3 linked regions of the Homo sapiens genome follow. The protein of the gene in region 2 purifies or fractionates together with the protein of the main gene of each other region. This does not show direct contact. Each region holds a gene or a part of one and is shown on either strand. Other genes may lie near its edges. The genes, in order: WDR19, PISD and IFT140.

The links.
Region 1: the proteins of PISD (region 2) and WDR19 purify together in Homo sapiens (affinity purification with mass spectrometry; one large-scale study listed by BioGRID and IntAct). This does not show direct contact.
Region 3: the proteins of PISD (region 2) and IFT140 purify together in Homo sapiens (affinity purification with mass spectrometry; one large-scale study listed by BioGRID and IntAct). This does not show direct contact.

What each region holds. Positions count from the first base shown.
Region 1 is NC_000004.12:39,227,439-39,231,089, reverse strand, and holds part of WDR19 (WD repeat-containing protein 19), read right to left. Parts: intron 2,881-3,651; coding exon 2,733-2,880; intron 2,605-2,732; coding exon 2,400-2,604; intron 1-2,399. UniProt on the Homo sapiens protein: As component of the IFT complex A (IFT-A), a complex required for retrograde ciliary transport and entry into cilia of G protein-coupled receptors (GPCRs), it is involved in cilia function and/or assembly.
Region 2 is NC_000022.11:31,621,104-31,624,366, forward strand, and holds part of PISD (phosphatidylserine decarboxylase proenzyme, mitochondrial), read right to left. Parts: intron 2,747-3,263; coding exon of another isoform or gene 2,581-2,746; intron 783-2,580; coding exon 546-782; intron 429-545; exon of another isoform or gene 370-428; coding exon 231-369; intron 40-230; coding exon 1-39. UniProt on the Homo sapiens protein: Catalyzes the formation of phosphatidylethanolamine (PtdEtn) from phosphatidylserine (PtdSer). Plays a central role in phospholipid metabolism and in the interorganelle trafficking of phosphatidylserine.
Region 3 is NC_000016.10:1,584,490-1,588,140, forward strand, and holds part of IFT140 (intraflagellar transport protein 140 homolog), read right to left. Parts: intron 3,536-3,651; coding exon 3,444-3,535; intron 2,816-3,443; coding exon 2,709-2,815; intron 2,697-2,708; exon of another isoform or gene 2,640-2,696; coding exon of another isoform or gene 2,606-2,639; intron 1,787-2,605; coding exon 1,641-1,786; intron 1-1,640. UniProt on the Homo sapiens protein: Component of the IFT complex A (IFT-A), a complex required for retrograde ciliary transport and entry into cilia of G protein-coupled receptors (GPCRs).

The sequences.
Region 1 (3,651 bases), on a different chromosome or scaffold from region 2:
TCCGCCCGCCTCGGCCTCCCAGAGTGCTGGGATTACAGGTGTGAGCCACCGTCCCCGGCCCAGCCCACTCTTTAATGGATTGTCTGTGGCCACTTTCCTGCTACAACAGCCAGACTGAGTAGCTGCGATAGAGACCCTATGGCCCGTAAAGCTTGAAATATTTGCCATTTGGACCTTAACACAAAAGGTTTTCCGACCTCTGGTTTAAAACATGAACATAAATGCCAATTAAACTTTTTGTGGAACCTCTACATGAGTGAATATATTACATCCATCTATCTATTCATTCATCCATTTATCTATTCACCTATCCATTTTTTCATCCAACACACATTTACTGAACTCGTTACATGCTTGGAAACATGATACAAAAATCAACCACAGTTGCTGTCCTTAAGGCAGTCACAATTGGGGAAGGTGGAAGAGACAGATAAGGAAACAAATGACTATAGCATAGTTTGACAGAGGTAACTGAGTACTTACAATAGGTAACTCTTTGTGCTAAGTCTTTTGCATAAATTCTCTTACCCTAATAACCCTACCCACTAAGTATTATTATTATGTCTCCTTTATAGATTAGGAAAATGAGGCTTAGAGACGTCAAAAGACTAGCCCAAGGCACACAGAGGTAAGTGGTGTCATGCTCTTCACCACTGTGTATACTGCATCCTGGCTCTGAGGCAACACATCAGAAAGACCCCAAGCAGGACTGCCTGTGGTGGTGGGGAAGTCGGGGAAGGCTTCCTGGAGCAGGAGATGGCTCCACTTATCGCTGATGGGTAAAGAAAGAGGGGTTACTACATTCAGAGCAGGGAAAGGGCATTCCAGGAAGAATCATGAAATATATGCAATTTCAGCAGCCAGTGGAACAGAGAGGGACTTGAGTGGAGACAGTTGAGCTGGTGTTAAATCATGAAGTGCCTAGTAGGTCATAGAGGTCCCCCAGGAATGGATTTGTTTGTAAAGGCAATAGAAAGTCACTGAAGGATCCTGAGCAGGGAAATAAGAGGATCAAATCACATCTTCAAAAGTGTGTGGAGAACAGATGAGATCGTTACAAGGCTATTGGCAGACAGAGCAGTTAGGAAGTGGTTAGTTACATTACACATTATTCCAGGTGAGGGCCTGGGTAAAGATGAGGGAACACGGGAGGAGGAAAGGAGCTGGTGTATATGTGTGTTAAGGCATGTGCATGTGTGATTACAGTGAGGGAAAATAGGGGCCTGTGGAAATTGATGAGTTCAGTTTTAGAAAGGGCAAGTTTGAAGAGCTCATGGACTTCCAAGGACACATGACTGGAAGGTAGTTGTAAGTACAGGTTTAAGATAAAGACACAGATTTTAGAGTCAGCTTCATATGGGTGGTATGTTGAGCCATGTTAAGCAGAGGAGATTCACTCAGGAAGAATAATTAGAGTAAGAAGAGAAGGAAACTCATGAGACCCCAATAAACAGCAGCATTTAAGAGAGGCTCGGAAGAATTAGAACGTCAAAGGAATTCACGGTGGCTCTAGGAGATAAGAGAAAAAAACAGTAAAAGGAAATTATAAGCAAAGCAAAATCAAACCTCACTATGATGAAGTCAAGATATTGTTGAAATAATTAGGTTTATTTTATTAGGATTTCCCAATAACTAGGCTCTCTGGAAGCTTAGAAACCGTTTTGTTCTTAAGGGCTTTTCTTGTAATAAAGTACTCATAATAAAAACAGCTGACTATCTTATCTGAGCCTCACAATATCCCTGTGAAATGAACAAGGTAAGTGCTGTTATCTCCATCTATTGAATAGGATTTGACATTTTATCAAAAAGACACCTGCACTCATATGTTTACTGCAGCACTATTCACAATAGCAAAGTCATGGAATCAACTTAAGTGTCCATCAACAGATGACTGGATTTTAAAAAGTGGTGTGTATATATAGATATACACACTATGGAATACTACTCAGCCATTAAAAAAATGAAATCATGTCTTTTGCAGCAATATGGATGGAATTCGAGGTCATTATCCTAAGTGAAATGCCCCAAAGTCAAAAACTGCATGTTCTCACTTAGAAGTGGGAGGTAAACAATGGGTACACATGGACATACAGGTGGAATAATAGATACTGGCAACTCCAAAAGGCGGGATGGTGAGACAGGGTTGAGGGATAAAATACTACCCACTGGGTACAGTGTTCACTATTCTGGTGATGGGTACATTAAAAGCCCAGACTTCACCATATGCACTATATCCATGTAGCACAACTGCACTTGTACTTCTACATTTACAAAAAAAAAAAAAATTCTTGCAAGGATAAAGAATAAAGCAATAAAATAAGATAGAATAATTATAGGATTTGACCTTTAAAATCACAAAAGCAAATGAGAAGTTCCAAAAGAAGTGTGTGAAAGCCTACCTCTTTAGCATTAAATTCTGTGCCAGCATTGGTCTCAGTTCGTCAGGCCCCGTATCTTTTAAGTTGCTGAGAAAGCCATGGGTGCTAAGGTAGATGTTGTTTACTTTTCCACTCTGTGTTTGGCAGGTCAGCTCTCCATTATATAGCAGCAAAGGTTTATGAGCAAAAGGAACTTTGGTGCTACCAGCCAAAATAACCTTGGCTCCTACATTATAAAACAGACATCGCAATGCTGAAAGCTAATACTCAGCACAAACATCAGAAAGAATGTTTTAATTTTACTGCAATGGGAAATTCATCTGTCAGCGAATATACACAAAAGGGGTTTAGTACCTTGTATAGTGTCCTTGTGAAAGACATAAGTGTACACCTTATCATCATCATAAGCAATAAATACACCTTTATCCATTGGCCAGTTTTCCCAAAGAACACCTTTAATGGTTGGTGAAAAATCTGGAATCTCATAGGTAGCGTCATTGACCTACAAAATAAAATTTACAGATTTGCCCCAAGTCTGTACTTGAATCATTATCATTTGCCGTGGTAGAAGCCTGTTTGCAGCCTTAGCTGGCTTAGCTTACTGAGTCATATTCAACCTAACATCACTCCAACAACAACAGGAAAGAAAGTTTCTTTTTCCATTCCTATCCTAGGTCTGGCTTGAAAAAACTATAGTTATTTGGAAAAGCCAAGGTTTGATCTAAAATCTGGCAAATTTGTAGGAGAACCCACAAGTCTAGACACAAAGCTTCAGGTTAAGGAAAAAAAATTAAAGCTGCTCAGGATGACAGAAATTTAAACTACGAACACACTTGTACTTGTGTTTAGAAATTTTTCAATAATACTGAGTATTTGATAATAGTGGGTATTAAGAAACAAATTAACTCACATGATTGAAGTAAATTACACTAGGGATACTTTATTTCAAAAGCTTCTCTAAAATGCATGTCAACAAATATAAATATACAATCATCCCTCAACATCCATGAGGGATTGGTTCCAGGATCTCCCACGGATAGCAAAACCCACAGATGGCCAAATCCCTGAATAAAATGGTGTAATATGTGTATAAACTATGTACACCCTCCCTTATACTTTAAATCATCTCTAGATTACTTATAATACCTAATACAATATAAATGCTATGTAAATAGTTGTCATACTGTATGGGGAATATAGACAACAAAAGTTTTCTGCACAGGTTTAGCACAGACAAAACCATCCATTTTTCCCCTGAATATTTTTGATCTAC
Region 2 (3,263 bases):
GGGTGACCAGCTGGTTCTTGAAGGAGTCACACGACGCGGCTGTGGAGTAGGAGCAGACGTGGGGGCCACCAACACAGTGAGCACCCAGCACGGAGCCCGAGTGTGGTCTGCACATGGATTCTCAGGGAGGCCCCACATGCCAGCCTCAGTTCCTTCCCCAGCATTCCCCTCCCTCCCGGTCCAGCCACACAGCAGCAGGGCTGCCTAGCCCCGCCTGTGCAGTGACCCACCTGGTGGGAAGGGCAGGTCCTCTGTGCACATACGCGGGCCCAGGAACGACTCCAGGGAGTAGGTGACCCCCTTTACCTGCTCCACCTCACAGTTCTTCACCTGCCCAAAGTTGAGGATCCTTCCATCCGATGGGCTAATCTGGAAGGGCAGGAGAGGCTTGCTGCCAGGGAGAGCAGGGTCTCCTCCCCCCAGGAGACAGCCCCCACCTCCCCTTGTCATCCTGCCCCTTCCAGATACGCTGGAGACCAGGGGGGCTGTGCTGGGGAGGCAGGAAAAAGTCCTGTTTCCTGCAGGAGGAAAGGGTCAGGCCTCACCACGCTGTGCAGGCCACAGACAGGCCGGGCCTGCGGCTTCAGCTTGCGCCGGAAGAACTCGCTGAGGTTGCGGTAGTGATGCAGGTCCTCCACAGCGGCCTCTTTCATGTTCACCCCAAACGTCCAGATGTACAGGCTGTAGACGGGCCTGCGCAGCCAGTGTGGCAGCTCCACCTGATTGAGGCGACCCCAGGCCCGTGACAGCAAGCGCGTTGGCACTGACTTGTACAAAGCCACCTGCAGGCCACAGGGCAAGGGGCTGAGTTGACCACACTGCCCCAGCTCCAGAGAGCCCAAGTAGTGTCATTAGCCCAGCTCTCACTTCAGGGGAGAATCTGCACCCCACGGAGGACACCAGGGCCCAGGTGCCCCACGCTGCTTTTGTGATGTGGCTGTTTCTCACTGGGAACCAGACTGCACCTGCCACACGGAGTGCTGGATTTACATACAACTCCAGTGGATTTCATCATTTCATGCAAAAGTCAAATAGCAACTGCTCCAGTCCCAGAACGGGAGACGCCCAGCAGTCTTACTTCTTAAAGTGGGGGTCGGAAACGGATCTGATCCTAACCACAGTGTGTGACCCTAGCCACGGTGACCCCAATATCACAGTGTGTGGAGAGGTGGTGGGCATCTTGCCCGTGGTCACTGCCCATATCCCAGACCACCAAAGGAGGAGGCTCCCAAGTGCATGGAACAAGTCTACAGCCCAAAGTGTGTCCCTCTGTCTTAACAGGAAGAAGGAGGATACCCTGAGCACCAACAGGGATTTTCAGATGCAGGTCTGCGATGTCACTGTCACCTGGGCCTGAGCTGCAGACACAGGGTCTGCAGCCCCCACAGGTCCAGCCAGCACTCTTGAGGGCCTGGATGCAGCCAGTCTGAGAAGCCCAGCCCTGCTGAGCCCCACCTTGGCCCCACGGCAGGACTTGTGTTCAACGTTCTACTGTGACTGAGCCAGGCCATAAAGCCATCTGCACCTGGGGTTCCTCCCAGGAGGCAAAGAGAAGTCATCCCCTCAGGCCCCTCTGTTCTCTCTTCCTTCAGGGAAGCCTGGAGCACCTAAGACAGACGATGGCCTGGGGACAAGCACTGGGTCCCACTAGATGGTCCCAGAGCTCTCCGGCAGGGCCAGGTACCCAGGAAGGGGCAGCCTCTTAAACTTCAGGTGCTGCTGCCACTGTAGAAGCTGCCTGTAATTGGTGGCTGCTGCTTCTCTAAACACAACCAAGACACCAACTCCCCAAGGTGTAAAACTGATTTCATTCCAACTTTCAACACCTCTCCAAGGTAAGGTAAGCTCCCAGAGAGCTGCTCTTATCCCTTCCAGCTGATGCCCAGTCACACAGAAGGGCTATGTGAGCCCAGGCCCTTCCCAGGCACAGGTGGGAGCCTGGGCTAATGTCCAGGGTGCCTCAGTGCCCCTGAGCTCTGATGACACCCATGTGACTGTCAAAGGCCCAGGAACAGGGTTTCCTCCTTGGGGTCAACCTGCCTGGGAAGCCAAGGGCAAGAGCAAGCCCTCTAGGGACCAGGAGAGGACAAGCCAGTTCCCTTGCCCATTCCTGGGGCATGCCTCTGGGTTCCTTAAGGGTGTCCTCACCCTAAGGGACCCAAACAGGATCCATCCATCCTGAACCACCCCTTTGGCATCCCGGAATTAATTTGGCTTCTGTTCAAAATCACCTATAAGCTCTTTTTTGCTTGAACACAGAAAAATCAGAGACAGACACCATTTTCTGAATCCCCAGACTGGGTTCCTTCCAGAACCAGAGCCCCAAATGGCAGACATGAGGCAGGCTAGGGGAGTGGGCAGGGCACGACATGCCCTCGCAGTCACCCGCGGCCCAGGTAGTGGCCTTCTCAAAAGCTGCCTTGGCCTTGCCCACCAATGAACCTTCCGACCCGGACCCCCTGAAGATGTAGCGGTGACCTCTGCTTCTGACAGCTCGCCACCACCTCAGTCTCTCCTGCACCCCAACCTCAGGCCTGCCCGGAAGGGAGGTCCGAGCCACAGGGGCCTGTGCACACTTACCCTGCTTACGGGCCTCCATCCCACCCGGCTGAGCGGTCTGAGGGCGCCGAAGGGCAGGAGGTAGTAGAGGACGGTCAAGGGCCAGGAGCGCAGTTTCAGAGCGGGTCTGGACATGCAGCTCAGCTGCCCCAGCCTCCGCCTCAGGGCCAGCTGGGGGAAGTGCAACCTGCAGGGCACAGGTCCATGCACAGCCAGGTCAGTGGCCAGGCTCTGGGCAGGACCCAGGAGGCTGCCACCTGCACCCAGGGCAGGATTCCTCCTGTCTACCCACCCTTGGCAAGCTGCCTCTCCATGGGGGTGATGGAGCCCAGCAAGCACTGGCTGTGCCCCCTCGTCCCAACCCCATTCTGATTCAGGGGCTTGGCTGCCTCTGGCTAGCGGACTCATTTCCCAGGCTCTCCCACCCGCCAGCCAGCTGGGGAGGACTGGGAATGTGGGGGCAGCCGCAAGAGGAGAGTCAGGCCCAGCTGCGGGGCACCTCTCAGCTGCAGCAGCTCCCAGCAAGGGCCTCCAGGCCCAAGCACCTGGGCCCAGGAAGGGGAGAGCAGGGTGTAGGGCCTGCCTCACATCCCTCAGCCTCCGCAGCCCAGGAGAGTGGGCCCCAGGGGCCAGCTCTGCCACACAGGCACTGGCACGGCAGCACATAGCGCTGAGGAGCTACGACCCAGCCAGCTGGGTAACCA
Region 3 (3,651 bases), on a different chromosome or scaffold from region 2:
AATACTTACACACACGAGAACTCAGAAACCATTTCCAAGTACCATTGTTCCGGACTTAAAAAATGATCTTATAAGACATTATAAGAAAAGTCTTATAAAGGTAAAGAGTATGCTGTGTAGAAAGACTTCAAGATACTGATGCTCAAGGGTTGTGATTGGACAGGCAGCACTGGTATGTCTGTTCTGATGGGAAGAGCGTTTTCTAGAGTTTTTCTGAGTGGGACACACTTTTCTGAGTGTGACATAGGGATGTTTATGTTTTTTATAAACAGACAGGAAGTTTACATAATGGATTAAATTATCCAGCTTTCTTCTGCTGATGTGAAATGTTGGTTTCATAATTTTATATTAAACTTCTAAATCTATCTAAAAATAAATAAAGACCTATGCAAAATAGGAAAGTATAAATTCCATATAGGAAAAAACCCAGACATCAGAAACTGCTCTGAAAGGGCTCAGATGTTGGACTTAGCAAAGACTTCAAAGCAGCCACTGGAAACGTGGTGAAGGAGCTGAAGGAAACCAGCCTGGTGAAGTGAAGGAAGCTACAACGACAGTGTCTCATCAGGTAGAGAACAGGAACAGAGAGAAATCATAAGAAAGAACCAAATGCTGCAGAGAAATTAAAACATCCTCACACAAAAACGTGTACACAAGTGTTCGTAACAGCATTATTCAAATGTCCATCAACTGATGAATGGAGAAAGAAAACGTGGTCTGTTCACAGCAGAGAATGTGATTCAGCCATGAAAAGGAGCAAAGCATTGACACAGGCTACAATCTGGAGGGGCCTTGAAACCTCAGCTCAGTGGGAGCAGCCGGGCACAAAAGACCAGGTGTTGTGTGATTCCATTTCCATGAAACATCCAGAATGGGCAAATCCTTAGAGAGAGGAGGTAGATTAGTGGCTGCCAAGGGCTGGAGAGGGGAAAATAAGAGCGACCACTAAAAGGTACAGATTTTTTGTGGCGCTGAAACTGTTCTAGAATTCACTGCAGTGATGTTTGTAAAATTGTGAATATACCAAAAACCACTTTGTATATATCATGAGTTATATCTCAGTAAAGCTCTTTTTCATACAGATAGAGAGAGATGGAGAGGGAGGGATGGGTTCGTGGGTAGATACATATTATAACTAATACAGGTCCACAATCTCTTATCTGCAATTCTGAAATCCAAAAGGTCTTTTAAAATGTCTTATTATTGTTATTTTCACATAGTCTTAAGTTGAATAACTGATAAAAATAGGTTCAGAGTCATTTATGGCCTCCACTTTCTTTTTTTTTTTTTTTTTTTTTTGAGACGGAGTCTCACTCTGTCTCCCAGGCTGGAGTGCAGTGGCACAATCTCGGCTCACTGCAAGCTCCAGCTCCTGGGTTCACGACATTCTCCTGCCGCAGCCTCCTGAGTAGCTGAGGCTACAGGCGCCCGCCACCACGCCCGGCTAATTTTTTGTATTTTTTAGTAGAGACAGGGTTTCACCGTGTTAGCCAGGATGGTCTCGATCTCCTGACCTCATGATCCACCCGCCTTGGCCTCCCAAAGTGCTGGGATTACAGGCGTGAGCCACCGCGCCCGGCCATGGTCTCCACTTTCATGCAGCAGAAAATGAGTGCACCGAACACCCTTGGAGGCTGTACCTGGATTTGCGTGATGTTTCCTTGGAGCTCGGTAGGGGTCTGAAGGGCCCACCTGTCCTTGCCCTCTGCCCCGGGGCTGCCCAGGAAGTCTGGTACTTTCCTCCACATGGCTACTCGCCCTCTGTCGGTACCAGCGGCCAGAAGACCTACAGGTAGAAACAAACTGCATGTGAACAGAGTTAAAAAAAGGGAACAAAACAGCAACAAGCTCTGTTCTCTAACCCCCTTCTTCAAAGCATCAGCCCTCGCCCAGTCTGGTGCCTCTCCACCTCATCCCTGGCTGCATCTTTCTGCCCAGGTCCTTGCTGCCCTGACCTCACAGTGCCAGTGCGGGGGTGGTGGGGGATGCTGCTCTCCCAGCTTTCCTAGAGGCCAGTTGGCCTGGCTCGGGGCTGCCCCATGCTCAGCACTCAGCAGGCACTAGAGACGCGGCTCTGGCTCACCTCCTAGTCTCCTGTGCTCTGGATGTGCATATGCACACATACACACACATGCATGCACACACACACACACACACACACTTCCTGCACTGTCCTTCCCGTGGCATTTCAGGAGGGAACAGAGATCAATGAGCAGGAATCGGTTTGCTTCTTGTTAGATGGGGTCACGCTCTGTCACACAGACTGGAGTGCACTGGCACCATCTTAGGTCACTGCAGCCTCAACCTCCCAGGCTCAAGCAATCCTCCCACCTCAGCCTCCTGAGTAGATGGGACCACCGCTGTACACCATCACACCTGGCTAATTTTTGTATTTTTTGTGGAGACGGGGTCTCACTATGTAGCTCAGGCTGGTCTTGAACTCCTGGGCTCAAGTGATCCTCCCTCCTCAGCCTCCCCAAGTACTGGGATGCAGGTTGTCATGCTTCTAACCAAACCCCCTGGCCTTCATGTGGGATCACAAAGCTCTGCCGTTGCTTGCTTGCCCTTGCCCGACTATTTGAATGGCTGTGAGTTACCAAGTTACCATTGTGTGAGTAGCCTCCACGTTTCACTACCATTATTTTGCAGCCGGCGCACAATGCTTGTGGTTGGTTCTGTTTCTCTTGTGCCAGGCCAGGAAGCCTCACCTTTGACTTTACAGTAACACACACAGTTCATATTCTCTCCTTTCTCAAAGCCAAACTTCTCATCTGGACTCAGTATATAATTCTCTCCTCGTTCTATGTCCCAGAATCTACAACAGAAGAAAGCAAGCCCCATGGAGGGCCTGTGTTAGTGGCGTTTCCCTCTGAGGGGTTTTTGAACCTGTGGAGCAAACATTAAAAGTCAGGAAAAAGACATAGTTCATCAGACTCCTGATATGAAAACGAACACTGCTGTTACATTTGGGACATTTTATGTCCTGTTTCTAATGAAAGAAAGCCGTTGCCGATAGATGGTGGTTTGTATATGGCAGGAGGTCGCCAAGAGAACACAGGAATTGCAGCCCCACACAGAGCACGAGATGGCCCCGGACAGCACACTGAGCTAACGCAGCAGGCAGCAGAGACCACAACGACTGATTCTAGTTATGCCACACTCCGAAAAACCAGGCAAAGAGATTCCACGGGCAAACACCAAGGCAGGGCCACCTGGGGGTAAGGGGAGCCCCGAGGGAGTGCAGTGGGGCGGGCAGGGACTCTTGGGGTCTCTTAATGCTCAGCTCCTCAGTCTGGGAGCTGGTGAATGGGTACGTCCAGTATGAGAGCACTCAGCATCATATGTGCATTTTACATATGCTCCATTCCAACACAAAGCTGACTTAGAGGAGCCTGTTCCTCAGGGAACTCTCATCAAGGGGCACTGGAAAGGCAGACTCTCACCTGAGGGCAGCCTCCCCGACGGCCATCACGAGAAGGCTGCCTTCAATCAAAGCGATGTCTGCCCGGCGGCCGGTTTTCCCGCTCAGCTTGACCTGTGTGAGGAAACAACCGAGCAGAGGCACCGTGCTTGCTGAGACGGCCTGTCCCGGCTTCAGGAGCCTGGAGTCTCTGGTCCTCAGTGACTTCATGGAGACTCACCAAGTGGGGG